3 linked regions of the Homo sapiens genome follow. The protein of the gene in region 1 purifies or fractionates together with the protein of each later gene. This does not show direct contact. Each region holds a gene or a part of one and is shown in the gene's direction. Other genes may lie near its edges. The genes, in order: AVIL, USP47 and DDX11.

Region 1 (3,749 bases):
TAAACTCACCTCTGGTAACAGTGGCCCAGACGCTGCTTTGTGCTAAAAGCATGGGAAATGTAAAGGCAGTCTTTCTCTGGGAAATGGATGCTATTCTATTCTGCTGCCCCTACCTGTTCCTGAGGCCTCATTTAGAAAGAAAATCCCCTCAGAAGGCTGTCTGGCACCCAGTGTCCTAGCCAGGCCAAGTATATGAGAAAGGTAAGTCCATTTTCCCCTTCAGGTCCTCAGTGGATTACTTAACCACTGCTGTCCCTCGGTCCCTTTTTCCTAAACGGGTTTAGTTCTGTCTTTTTTCTCCTTTTTTCTAAATGCTGGTAAATATTTACATTCAGCCAGGGAAGAGGAGGCCAGAGGTCGGGCCAGCTGCCCCATTCTTTTAACGTTGTAGGGCCTGCCCATGGAGCGGACCCTCCTCTTTGGGCCTCGTGAGCTTTTTTGCTTATCATGTTCCATTTCGTGCCGCTTTCCCCCTTCAAGATGCCATTTGGAGGGTAGGGGATCTGCTTCCCACTGTGACTGGGCTATGGGATTCTGACTACCTTGCTTACAGATTCATGGTTTGATAAATTTGTTGTATTCAAAAACTTGAAATGCAGGACGCCATTAAGTGTCTGTTTATATTTTTGGAATATTTGTATTACTTACAATTAATTAATAAAAGTGGGTTTAAAAAACCTTTCCAGGAATGTGAGCTGCCACCAACCTTCATTGGCCCTTAAGTGTTCACTGGGCCCATGGCAAGCACCGCCTTTCTTCTCGCAACCCCTTCCATCATGAAGCAGCTGCACCCCCGGGCTGAGTGGGGTGTTGCACCCACCGGGAGGCCAGCTGCAGATGCCACACAGGGCTTCCGCTCAAGGTTACACAAGTTCTGCTGTGATCAACCCCATTGCAGTCAGGTGCTTAGCACGTGTATATGCTTGATGTCCTATTGACTTCTGGGCATGAACCAGAAGCCCTAAGGGAATGGATTATTATTTTTTTTTTTTTTTTTGAAATGGAGTCTTGCTCTGTTGCCCAGGCTAGAGGCAGTGGCATGATCTCAGCTCACTGCAACCTCCACCTCCCAGGTTCAAGCGATTCTCCTGCCTCAGTCTCCTGAGTAGCTGGGATTACAGGCGCCTGCCAGCACGCCCGGCTCATTTTTGTATTTTTAGTAGAGATGGGGTTTCACCATCTTGGCCAGGCTGTTTTCAAACTCCTCACATTGTGATCCACCCACCTCAGCCTCCCAAAGTGCTGGGATTACAGGCGTGAGCCACCACCACACCCAGCCCTGGGAATGGAGTCTTGATTCTTCTCTGCCCCTCACTGATTCTTCCAAACTGGAAACCCTGAAGCTGAGAGCCCAGCATGGTTCCTGGCAAACAGCAGGCACTCAAATATTGATTGGTTTACTGTATGACTAGTAGAGACCCCAACGAGCAAAACTGTGGCCTAATAAAATTCTGGCTCCTCTCCCAGACTTCCCCTCCCTTTGAGAAATGCCAGAAGCTTCTTAGGGAGGCTCTTGCCAACCTAGACATCACAGGCACTCATGGGGCAGCTCCAGCCTCTTCCTCCTGTCATCACCATAATGCATCCATATCTACAATATGGCAAATTTCATATCCTTCCAACCTCTTTCCTGCATTATTGATGGGCTGTGTGCACTTTTTAAAAAATCAATTAGATCAGGGCGTGGAGCTGGAGTTCAAAGAAGCCTTTAAAAGTCTGCTCTTCTGTTTTGCTGTTTTGAATAGGCACAGATAAAGCTTTCCCTCTGGTTTGAATAAGCCAAGCTCAGTGCTAGGTTGGCTCTGATTGGCCAGGACTAGGAAAATGCGGTTAAGATGCAAACACAAGCAAATATAACCCAGTATCTCTGCGGCCATTACTAAGCTAAGGCAGCAGGACCTGGAGCCTCCTGCTTTGGAGTGGTTCTTCAATACTGCTGCTGCTTACGCGCCGGGAAACTGGGAAGGCTGGTGAGCGAGAAGGCAAGGTAAGGTCTCTGATTTACGGGGGCATGCCAGTTAATCCTCCTGAATGAGGAAGAAATGAAAGGAAGAGGAGCTTGAGAGTCCCTTGGCTTTGTCTTCTGAGATGAGGCTTTTAAAATGAACCAGGAGTCTGGCTGGCCAGTTTTGCAAACTTCTTGTTCAGAAGAACCCCTTAGAGGCAGCTGAACATATAGGGCACATTTTCAAAAGCTGGGAAAGACAGACCCCTTTCACCTATCCCTAGAGAAAGATGGTATGGAGCAAGGCAGGAGGAGTTAAAACCAGCTTCCTGGCCCAGAGAGGTGGCTTACACCTGTAATCCCAACACTTTGGGAAGCCAGGGCATGAGGATTGTTTGAGCCCAGGAGTTTGTAACTTGTGACCATCCTGGGCAACATAGTGAGACCCTGTCTCTACAAAAAAAAAAAAAAAAAAAAAAAAAAAAAAAGCCAAGCATGGTGGTGCACACCTGTGGTCTCAGCTTCTCAGGAGGCTGAGGCAGAAGGATCACTTGAGCCCAGGAGGTGGCGGTTGCAGTGAGCCGTGATTGTACCACTGCACTCCAGCCTGGGTGACAGAGCAAGACCCTGTCTCAAAAACAACAACAACAAAAAACAGCTTCCTCTGCTCAGGGTCCGTCCAAAAGGGCATCTCTGAGAATTACAGGCCACTGGCTTTTAACCTGACATTTCAAAACTGTGCCCCACACCCAAGGGGTTTCTGCAGTCCTCTCAAAGGATACTGAATTAGGATTTAGGGAGAAGGAGAGACCCAGCTTTGGGAGATTTGATGTCAGAACTGTGTTTTCTGTGTGTTCCAGTGTGACAGGAAGTCCCTTCCTGGAGCTTATCCTCTCGCATTCGGGGTGCCTGGCCCAGGGAGCTCCTTGATTCCTAAATTCCTGCTGGGAAACGGGACAGGTTTCAGCCTCTGAGGCTCACAGTCCTAATTGCTGCCGGCTGGTTTGGCTTTTACCAGGGTGACAGTTCTCTGTCTCCAAGGAATGAATTCAGTGGCCCTTGTCCCCTTCCCCTAGTTGGCTCATGGCTTTTGCCTTTAATGACTGCTACGTAGGGTCTGAAGAAAACCCAAACACCATATTTCCTGGCAATTCTGAGCAGCACAGGGTGGGGCAGCACAAGTTATCAAATTAAATTCTCAAACACTGGCTGCTCCGCACCATTGCCTTGCTTTAGTCCTGCTACAGCAGTAGACAAAGCGAGTCTGCTTTGAGCTTTATGGTTTTTTGCCAAAGTCCATACTAGATGGCGCATGCTCTCCAAACTTGGCTTTGTCCATCAAGGTTCAAGAAAACAATGGTCAGACATGTTCCTCTTAACAAACAGTATGTCCCCAAACAGCAAAAATGCATACAGTCCTTTCTGGGTGAATTTTTAAATCTTACATAAATCCATCAACCCCATCCTTTTTCCTTTGCCTCTTGGGAGAAATTAATCTAGCTTTACATTAATTATGCATGTTATCAGATTTCAAGCTCCTTGAGAGCAGGTATTTTAATTCTATAAAGCCTCTACGTGGCCTTGGACATGGGTAGGTGCTTAATTACCCAAGATGCTCCTTGAATACAGATGGTACACGACCTACACAGACTTAGATCTTTACCACTTCCCCCCTCTCCCCACCCTGACTTGCTCAATCCTGAAGGAACTGGAGACGTCTAAGTGTCTGAGGTTCACGCTTCCACACAGAAGCTTGGGTCTGTGTGGGAGGGAAAAAGGAAGCCATCTGTCCGCAGGCCAGACC
Region 2 (3,749 bases), on another chromosome or scaffold:
TATATCAACCTTTACTAAAATGAAAGTGACTAAAAAGGATTTCTGGAAAGACAACATGAGTTTGAAATAATATTGCAAGCATAAGCAAAAAAGATGACAGAGATGACATTTTTACTTCTAGGGTGAGCACTACAGCACTGGCCAGCACTACAGAAGACACCTTACTAAGTCATGGGATGACATTTTGAAAATAAAAGTTTGGAAATATTTCCATCATGTGATTTTGATGCAAAAATGATATATGTGAGCCACCCAAGTCTGGGACTATGGTGAAGCAAATGGTTTTCAAGGTGAAAACCGTTCACCTTGGGCACAAAATTTAAGGGGGGGGTGCCAAAAATTCAATAATCAAGACAACTAATCTTAATACAATATTTTAAAAAGTCAAAATTTATCTTAATCAATCCATGATAATCAAAATATCAAAACCTTAAAGACAAGATCTATAACTCCCAAAACTCATACATGAATACTTAAAACTTGAAGATAGAAATTTTCAACTTCTTAAAAATCTTCTAAGCAATTTATTCCAAAGAGCTTTGAACCCATTTGTAAAAATATAAAAATGCAACATCTTCTGGTTGACATCAGGAAAGATGGAACACTACTAGCTGAATTTCAATAAAAACCTTTGCATGGTTGTTGGATGGAATGGATAAAAATGAAACTTTTTTCATATCAGTTTTTTTTTTTAAATCGTTCTAAACATGCATTAGGAAGAGTGGCCAAAGATGTACTTCCTCCTTTAGGATCTACATCTTTGTGAGTTACCTTTTTTTCAGCTTATGACAGCCATTAAAACCAAGTACAAAAATAACCTGACGTTCAATCAGATATTTTAATAACTATTTCACGAAGTATTAAAGATTTTTAAAACTAACGAAACCTAGTCAATCATATTGATTTCCTTAAATATTTTTAGTGAGAATAACAAAGATTTTTATACCATTAATATGGAAAATAACTAAGTTATTTTAAATGTTTATGTCATCTTTGTCTTAGCCTTTTTACATTTTACAAATGTTTTATAATTCTGCACACAGCAGGACACGTATAAAACTTATATAAGTATATGGATTTTTTTTTGGTAACGGGATTACAATAAAAAAAAGTTTGGAGAACACAAGTGCAGGCAGTTAATGCTGTGGGTGTTAGGAACATGACAAGATTATATTATCTCAGCATGCTGTAAGATCACTGTATCCATAAAAGTCTTCATGAAGGAGCCCCGCCGAGTCTCCATAATGGAAGCAGGATTTGGAGAAATGACTTCTGCAAACTTTGTTTAGTATAACACAAAGCACCATGCTTACTACTAGAGAAGATTAAAATTCTCTAAAAACCTTGTTAACGGAGATCACAGGTTGAAGCATACTGCAGCTCTACTCTTGGAAGGCTAGCTCAGTCTCAGACTTGGCCCTGATGGAGAAGGAAGTTCCCTGGAAGAGGGCAGGGGAGCGCCTCTCCAATGTAGTTGCGGGGGGCGGGCGGTGAGGACACCGCTTCATAAGGGAAGGGGTGGCTGCCTCCCCAAGCAGGGGGTGGCCCCTGAGGTCCCTCCAGCTGGGGGCCCTTGAGAGGGAGGGTGGGGAGAGGGGAAAAGAACGTCAGGAGAGTGAACGGGAGCAAATAAAACGCTGTCCATTCTGACTGGAAGGGCCAGAGCCGTGTCTAAGGGCGGGGGCCGGGAGGTGGCCCGCGGTGGTGTCTCTACCAGGACGAGGCCTGGGGTATCTGAAGAGGGGATGACGTCCAGGCGCTTTGCTAAAGGGAAGCCAGAAGGGTATGAGTTGCTAGGGTCAGAGATGGGGCTTTCGGCTCGAGTCTTTCCCTGCAGGGCAGAGAGTCCGAAGAGCCCGAGAAGGCAGGGAGGACAGTGGGCCTGGTCCTTCCCCGGCCGGCAGAGGGAGTCCCGAGATGGAACGTCCAGCTCTCCTCTAACGAAAAGCGTTTGCATGGCTGTCTCGCCAATTCTGTACCTCCCGGGGCTGAGGAAGAGCCGAGGTGACTAGAAGCTAGCGACAAGTGCCGGCCACCTCCGACGCCAGGCGCCGGGCTTGGAGCCCGACGGGCCGAATTCTCGCGAGAGCGGCCGCCGCCATTTTTCCATTGATTGCAGCGGGCTGGGGGAGGGGCCGACGACGAAGGCGGCTGTGGTAGCGGCGGCGGCGGCGGCGGAGCCCTGGGTCGGTGTCTGCGCGCTGGTGTCTGAGGCCCAGGCTGAGGCCTCCGCTATTGCTGGAGCGCAGGCGGCGGAGAGGATGACTGCCGCTGCCATTCTCTCTTGAGCTAGCGAGCCGCCGCCACCCTCCACCCTCCCCCGGCAGGGCGGAGAGGAGCGGCCGGAGTCAGCGATGGTGCCCGGCGAGGAGAACCAACTGGTCCCGAAAGAGGTGAGGGGCCCCAGAGGAGGTTAGGCCTTAGGCCTGCGGCCGCTCGAGGCAACACAGGCCCGGGCCGGGGTTCGGCTGCGGGCCCGGCCGGGGTGCAGGCTCGGCTGTGGGGGAATGAGGAGGCGTGAGGCAGTCGGGGGTGGACGGTGGGTGCGGCGAGCAGTTGGGAGACCCGCTGGCTCTAGGGGCCGGGGAGCGGACCTCCCGCCTCGGGTTTTATGGGGCTGGACGAATAAAGGAGCGGACGGGAAAGAATCAGGTTCTGCTCTAGGGGAGAAGGTGGCCTTTTAAGTTCTTGTTTAACGTGTGGAGCCGGGAGAGATCATTTCAAAGAAAACATTCTGGAACAGTTGCCTATGGGCACGGCAGGGTGACGGTGCTGCTTCTGGGTTTGACAGTGGCAGCGTATAGCTTTCAGCGCTTGTGAAATCTACACCCAAGTGAGATCTGTGGGAGGGCAGACTTAACTGTTACGACTTTTTTCAACTCCTGTTACTTGGTAGTACTATTGGCCTGCCTAAATGGGGCCTACCGAAGATCGTGGAAAAGTAGTACATGGGACATTAATGTAAAGGAAGGAGATAGGAGAACATTACCACATGGAGAGCTGAACTCTTTTTTTTTTTTTTTTTTTTTGAGGTTGGGTTGTGTATGCCAATTTGAGTGACTTCTTAAATTCTTAAAAGCAAGTGATACGAGAAGCCTTGACTACTTGGCTTCTCTTGAATAGTAGTAGAAGATTTAGGGTAGAATCCAGCACTGGCCAGCGAATTTCAACGTATTAATAGTATCTCTGTTGGCTTTATAAATATCTTCGGCGTATTCAAATGTGTATTTTTAACTGGCTGATCATCAGGCTAATGCTTTGGATTTTTATTTCTCATATACCTTAAATAGAGACAAGTGTTGGATTGAAATTAACTGTGTGCGATCTTGAAATTAATGAGTGATCATTACAGATTCTTAAATTTTTTTGTGCCTGTTTTACTTGTTTTGTAGCAATTCTTTGTTACTTAAGCAAGCTCTGACAGTATGCAAGGGTGATATTATTGGAGTTATGTACCTGTATGATACAAGTATTTTCCCAGCTTTGTCAGAAGGGCAGTGATAGTTGTTTTGCAAGGACGATTTTTGTAAAAGGCAGAGAGTTATGTGTCAGTATTTGTTCATCAAGCGTCACCAACTCTGTGCAAAGCAGATAAACAGATGAGTTAATCAGAATTCTTGCCTTGGGAACTTTCTGAGCTACTAAGAAAGGGAACACTAGTGTTTGTTGAACTCCAATTAGGGACTAGGTACTTTACCACGTAAGTAATTCTTATGCAAGGAAGGAAGTGATAGGTGCTGTAAGAAAGG
Region 3 (3,749 bases), about 27 Mb from region 1:
CCAATCAGCACTCTGTGTCTAGCTCACGGTTTGTAAATACACCAATCGACACTGTGTATCTCGCTAATCTAGTGGTGACCTGGAGAACTTTTGTGTCTAGCTCAGGGATTATAAACGCACCAATCAGCACCCTGTCAAAACGGCTCAATCAGCTCTCTGTAAAACAGACCAATCAGCTCTCTCTAAAATGGACCAATCAGCAGGATGTGGGTGGGGCCAGAGAAGAGAATAAACACAGGCTGCCCTAAGACAGCAGCAGTAACTCACTAGGATTTTCTTACCACAGTATGGAAGCTTTGTTCTTTTTGTTTTTTAGGTCTGCACTGCCTTTATGAGCTGTAACACTCACTGCAAATGTCTGCAGCTTCACTCCTGAAGCTAGTGAGATACACGAACCCACCGGGGTGAACTAGCAACTCCAGTACATGCCGTCTTAAAAGCTGTAACACTCAGGCGAAGGTCTGCAGCTTCACTCCTGAGCCAGCAAGACCACAAACCCACCAGAAGGAAAAAACTCCAAACCCATCGGAACATCTGAGGGAACAAACTCCAGACACACCGCCTTTAAAAACTAACACCGCGAGGGTCTGCAGCTTCAGTCTTGCGTTAGTGAGACCAAGAACCCATCAATTCTGGACACACTATCAACTTTGTTTCTCCAAGGGTGCTTCTTAAACTGGATGATGCACACCCTAGGAGTGTGTGTGTAGGATGGGGTTTGAAGCAGTAGGGTAAAAAACCTAGCATACATTCTATTCCAGAGGTGTCAATTTACCAGACAACAGTTATTTTAAAACTTTTTTATGCAAAAACATGTTATAGGGTGGAATGCAACATTTTTATGGGCCTGTGGGCCATTTGTATACATCTTTGGAGAAATGGCTATTTAAGTACTCTGCCCATTAATTCTAAACTTAAAACTAAGACTTCAAAGTCCCTCTAAGGATTTTGCTGGGCCACATCCCAAGACCCTGAAGGGTATTACTTACTCGCCCTCTCCAAACTGCCGAAGTCGGAAGCAGGTGACAAAAAAGCTGACCCTGGAATCACCTTTTGTAAATTTCCCACCTCCAAGCTTTTCGATAGTTTGTAACACTGGCTCCTCTCCCCAAAAGCCTTTCCTTCAAGTCCCAGCAACTCTCCCTGACCCTGCTGGGAAGGCGCACCAATTACCTGTCATTCCAGGAAAGCTCATAGCATAAGATGATCCCATTGGTCATCTCCCAGAACCAGACTTTCTGAAAAGTCCTCAAGGACCAGCTAGTCCAATCCCTCACTGAATAAAGGAGAAGCAAAGTCTAGGGAGGTGAGGTGATTCGTTGTCCTCCTAATTAGCAGGTGAGCTCCTGGCAGGGCTGGGGTTTCATCTTCTGGGCTCTCTGCAAGGTCGTGCCCGGCACGGGCCAGGAACAATTTCATAAACTCGTCATCTAGACGGCCTTTGACTGACACCATCTCTCCGTGTGGAGGAGCCGCTGGGGTGCACGGGGCAGGTGTCGTCCGTTTCAAAGGTAAAATAACCCAGCTGCAGACCTCCAGAGGCCGACTAGAGCCGGGGTCAGAAAACAGGTTTTCCCTCTCGGGGACAGCGCCCAGGGGACCGGCATTAGAACATCGGCTGATGTTTCATCTGGTCAGGGAACCATCCAGCGCTTAGTACACCTGGCGCTAATCGGCGGGGATTAATCTCACACCCCGCAGCTGGCGGAAAGCAGCGGGAGGAGGCACCTAGCCCTGGGGTTGAGATCCCAGTTCCCGCGTGCGCAAACCACGCCCCTGTAGATTCTCGCTGCTGCGTGTTCGCGCGCGTCCCGGAGTGCGCATGCGCAGCGGCGGGGGTTGTTCCGGCTGCCTTTCACTGAGGGGACCCGCCAGTTTCTAACTCAGTGGCGTTTGCCCTGATTCCCGGGGCCTGGCTTTCAGCGTAGCAATTCTGCCGGCGAAGAAGGTGAGCGCAGTGCTGTGTGGCAGCAGAGCTCCTTAGGACGAGGAGCAGCGGGACGAGGAAGGGCAGACTGGTGAAATCGCAAACTGGGCGTCTGTTCCGGCGCCGGACCCCTATTTGCAAAGGTGGGTGGCCCGTCCGGAGCGGGAAAACATTCCGGAAGTGGAGGGCCGGGCCAGCGTGATTGACAAGCGGGAACCCCTGTGTGGGGACGGGTAGGCCTAGGAAGGTTGTGCCTGCGGTGGAACTGGGCGGTGCGCAGAAGTGGGCATTAACAGCAGCCGCGTGTCTGGGTCTTAGATTTGGCCCAGCTGTGTTGAGCTTTTCATGGATTATCTTACGTAGATAAGACACTGCAACAGTGAGTGAGCGCTTGTAACCCACCTGTCTCTTACGGAAACTGAGCCCCAGCGATGCTAACTTTAGCAAGGATACAGCTGGGATCCTAAACTTGGCAATCAGAGCCCAGAGCCGATAAAGTTAGCTGCATGAGTCTAGCTTCCCCCAGGGCGGGAATCGAGGCGGAGCAGGGTACAGTACGGAGGCCAGGAATGAGTGCACTTGACCAGATTGTTGACGGAAGTGTCATAAAAATGGACTTAAATGCTGATAAGCAGCTGTTTGGGTTCCACACAGGGTGCGAGCTCAGGATGCACGTTGGAGGGGACACAGGGCCAGAGCAAGGTGGGAATGCGGGTATTATGGGCCAGGCCATCCTCCAGCTGGTGGAGCACCGCAGTACTGCAGTGTGTGGCCCTGGCTTAACAGCAGTGCGGAAAAGCTTTTTTCTTGGGGCTGTGGTGCTTTCCAGGTGTGTGAAGTTAAAACATTTTAGGGCCATACGGTAGATAGTACCTGCCACATAGTTGTCTTGGTCAGCCCCGGCTGCCATGACAAAATACCATAAACTGGGTGGCTTAGACACAGAAATGTGTTTTCTCACAGTCCCAGAGGCTTGGGATGTCCAAGATCAATGTGGGGAGGACACAACTGAGCCCACAACAATAGTCTGTACTCAGTAATGAGTGATAATTGGGGACTGAAGAAAATGAACACGTTAAGAACTAATATGTTCCTGAAGTGCTTTCACAACTCTAACCTCGTTTTATGAGCGTGAGCTTTGCTGTCCTGGTGTGTGCCTTGGCACTGGGAGGTGATGGTTGTCCTCCACACAGCCAACCTGAAGAGGGCTGAACAAGTCACTGCAAATGTTTTTAATAGGGCTTAGTGAATCCGTTATACTCAGATTTATCTAAACCTCTATGATTTAGCCTGTGCTGCTTCTGGAATAATGAGATCCATAATTACCACTGATGGGGAAGTGAAATAATACTTACGTTTCTTCTGTATTGTTTAGTGTTGTCATTCTAGAGTTTGGTAACCAAGTCTGTCTTTTTTATCCCACTTATCCTGGTGGGAGGAAAAGTGAGGAGATAGAAAGTTTCAGGTGGCTTGGGGGTCTGGCAGATGTGGTTCAAATCCTGAGTTCAAGCACTTGCTGAGTGACCTTGGGCAAGTCATATAAGTTTACTGAGTCTCAGTTTCTTTCTCTATAAAATAGAGCTTATAAAAATACCACACAGGGTTTTTGTGGGGTTATCTGAAAACGGTTTGAAACCATTAAAGAACTGGCCATTTAACTAATAGGTATTCAAGTCATGGGACCTCCGTTACCCAGCCTCGGAAGAGAAACCTTCACTTACAGCCCCGATGTCTGGCTGGCTACTCATTCGTTCATCAGATTTTTGTTGAATGCCTATGAGGTGTCGAAGCACCTAGTTCTGAGTCCTGGAGCCAGAGAAGA

Evidence for each region.
Region 2: the proteins of AVIL (region 1) and USP47 purify together in Homo sapiens (co-immunoprecipitation; 3 studies listed by BioGRID and IntAct, with this or other methods). This does not show direct contact.
Region 3: the proteins of AVIL (region 1) and DDX11 purify together in Homo sapiens (affinity purification with mass spectrometry; 2 studies listed by BioGRID and IntAct, with this or other methods). This does not show direct contact.

What each region holds. Positions count from the first base shown.
Region 1 is NC_000012.12:57,816,867-57,820,615, reverse strand, and holds the start of AVIL (advillin), read left to right. Parts: upstream 1-1,881; 5' UTR 1,882-1,987; exon of another isoform or gene 1,988-3,749.
Region 2 is NC_000011.10:11,839,832-11,843,580, forward strand, and holds the start of USP47 (ubiquitin carboxyl-terminal hydrolase 47), read left to right. Parts: upstream 1-2,140; 5' UTR 2,141-2,354; coding exon 2,355-2,393; intron 2,394-3,749. UniProt on the Homo sapiens protein: Ubiquitin-specific protease that specifically deubiquitinates monoubiquitinated DNA polymerase beta (POLB), stabilizing POLB thereby playing a role in base-excision repair (BER). Acts as a regulator of cell growth and genome integrity.
Region 3 is NC_000012.12:31,072,022-31,075,770, forward strand, and holds the start of DDX11 (ATP-dependent DNA helicase DDX11), read left to right. Parts: upstream 1-1,838; 5' UTR 1,839-2,070; intron 2,071-2,243; exon of another isoform or gene 2,244-2,523; intron 2,524-3,749. UniProt on the Homo sapiens protein: DNA-dependent ATPase and ATP-dependent DNA helicase that participates in various functions in genomic stability, including DNA replication, DNA repair and heterochromatin organization as well as in ribosomal RNA synthesis.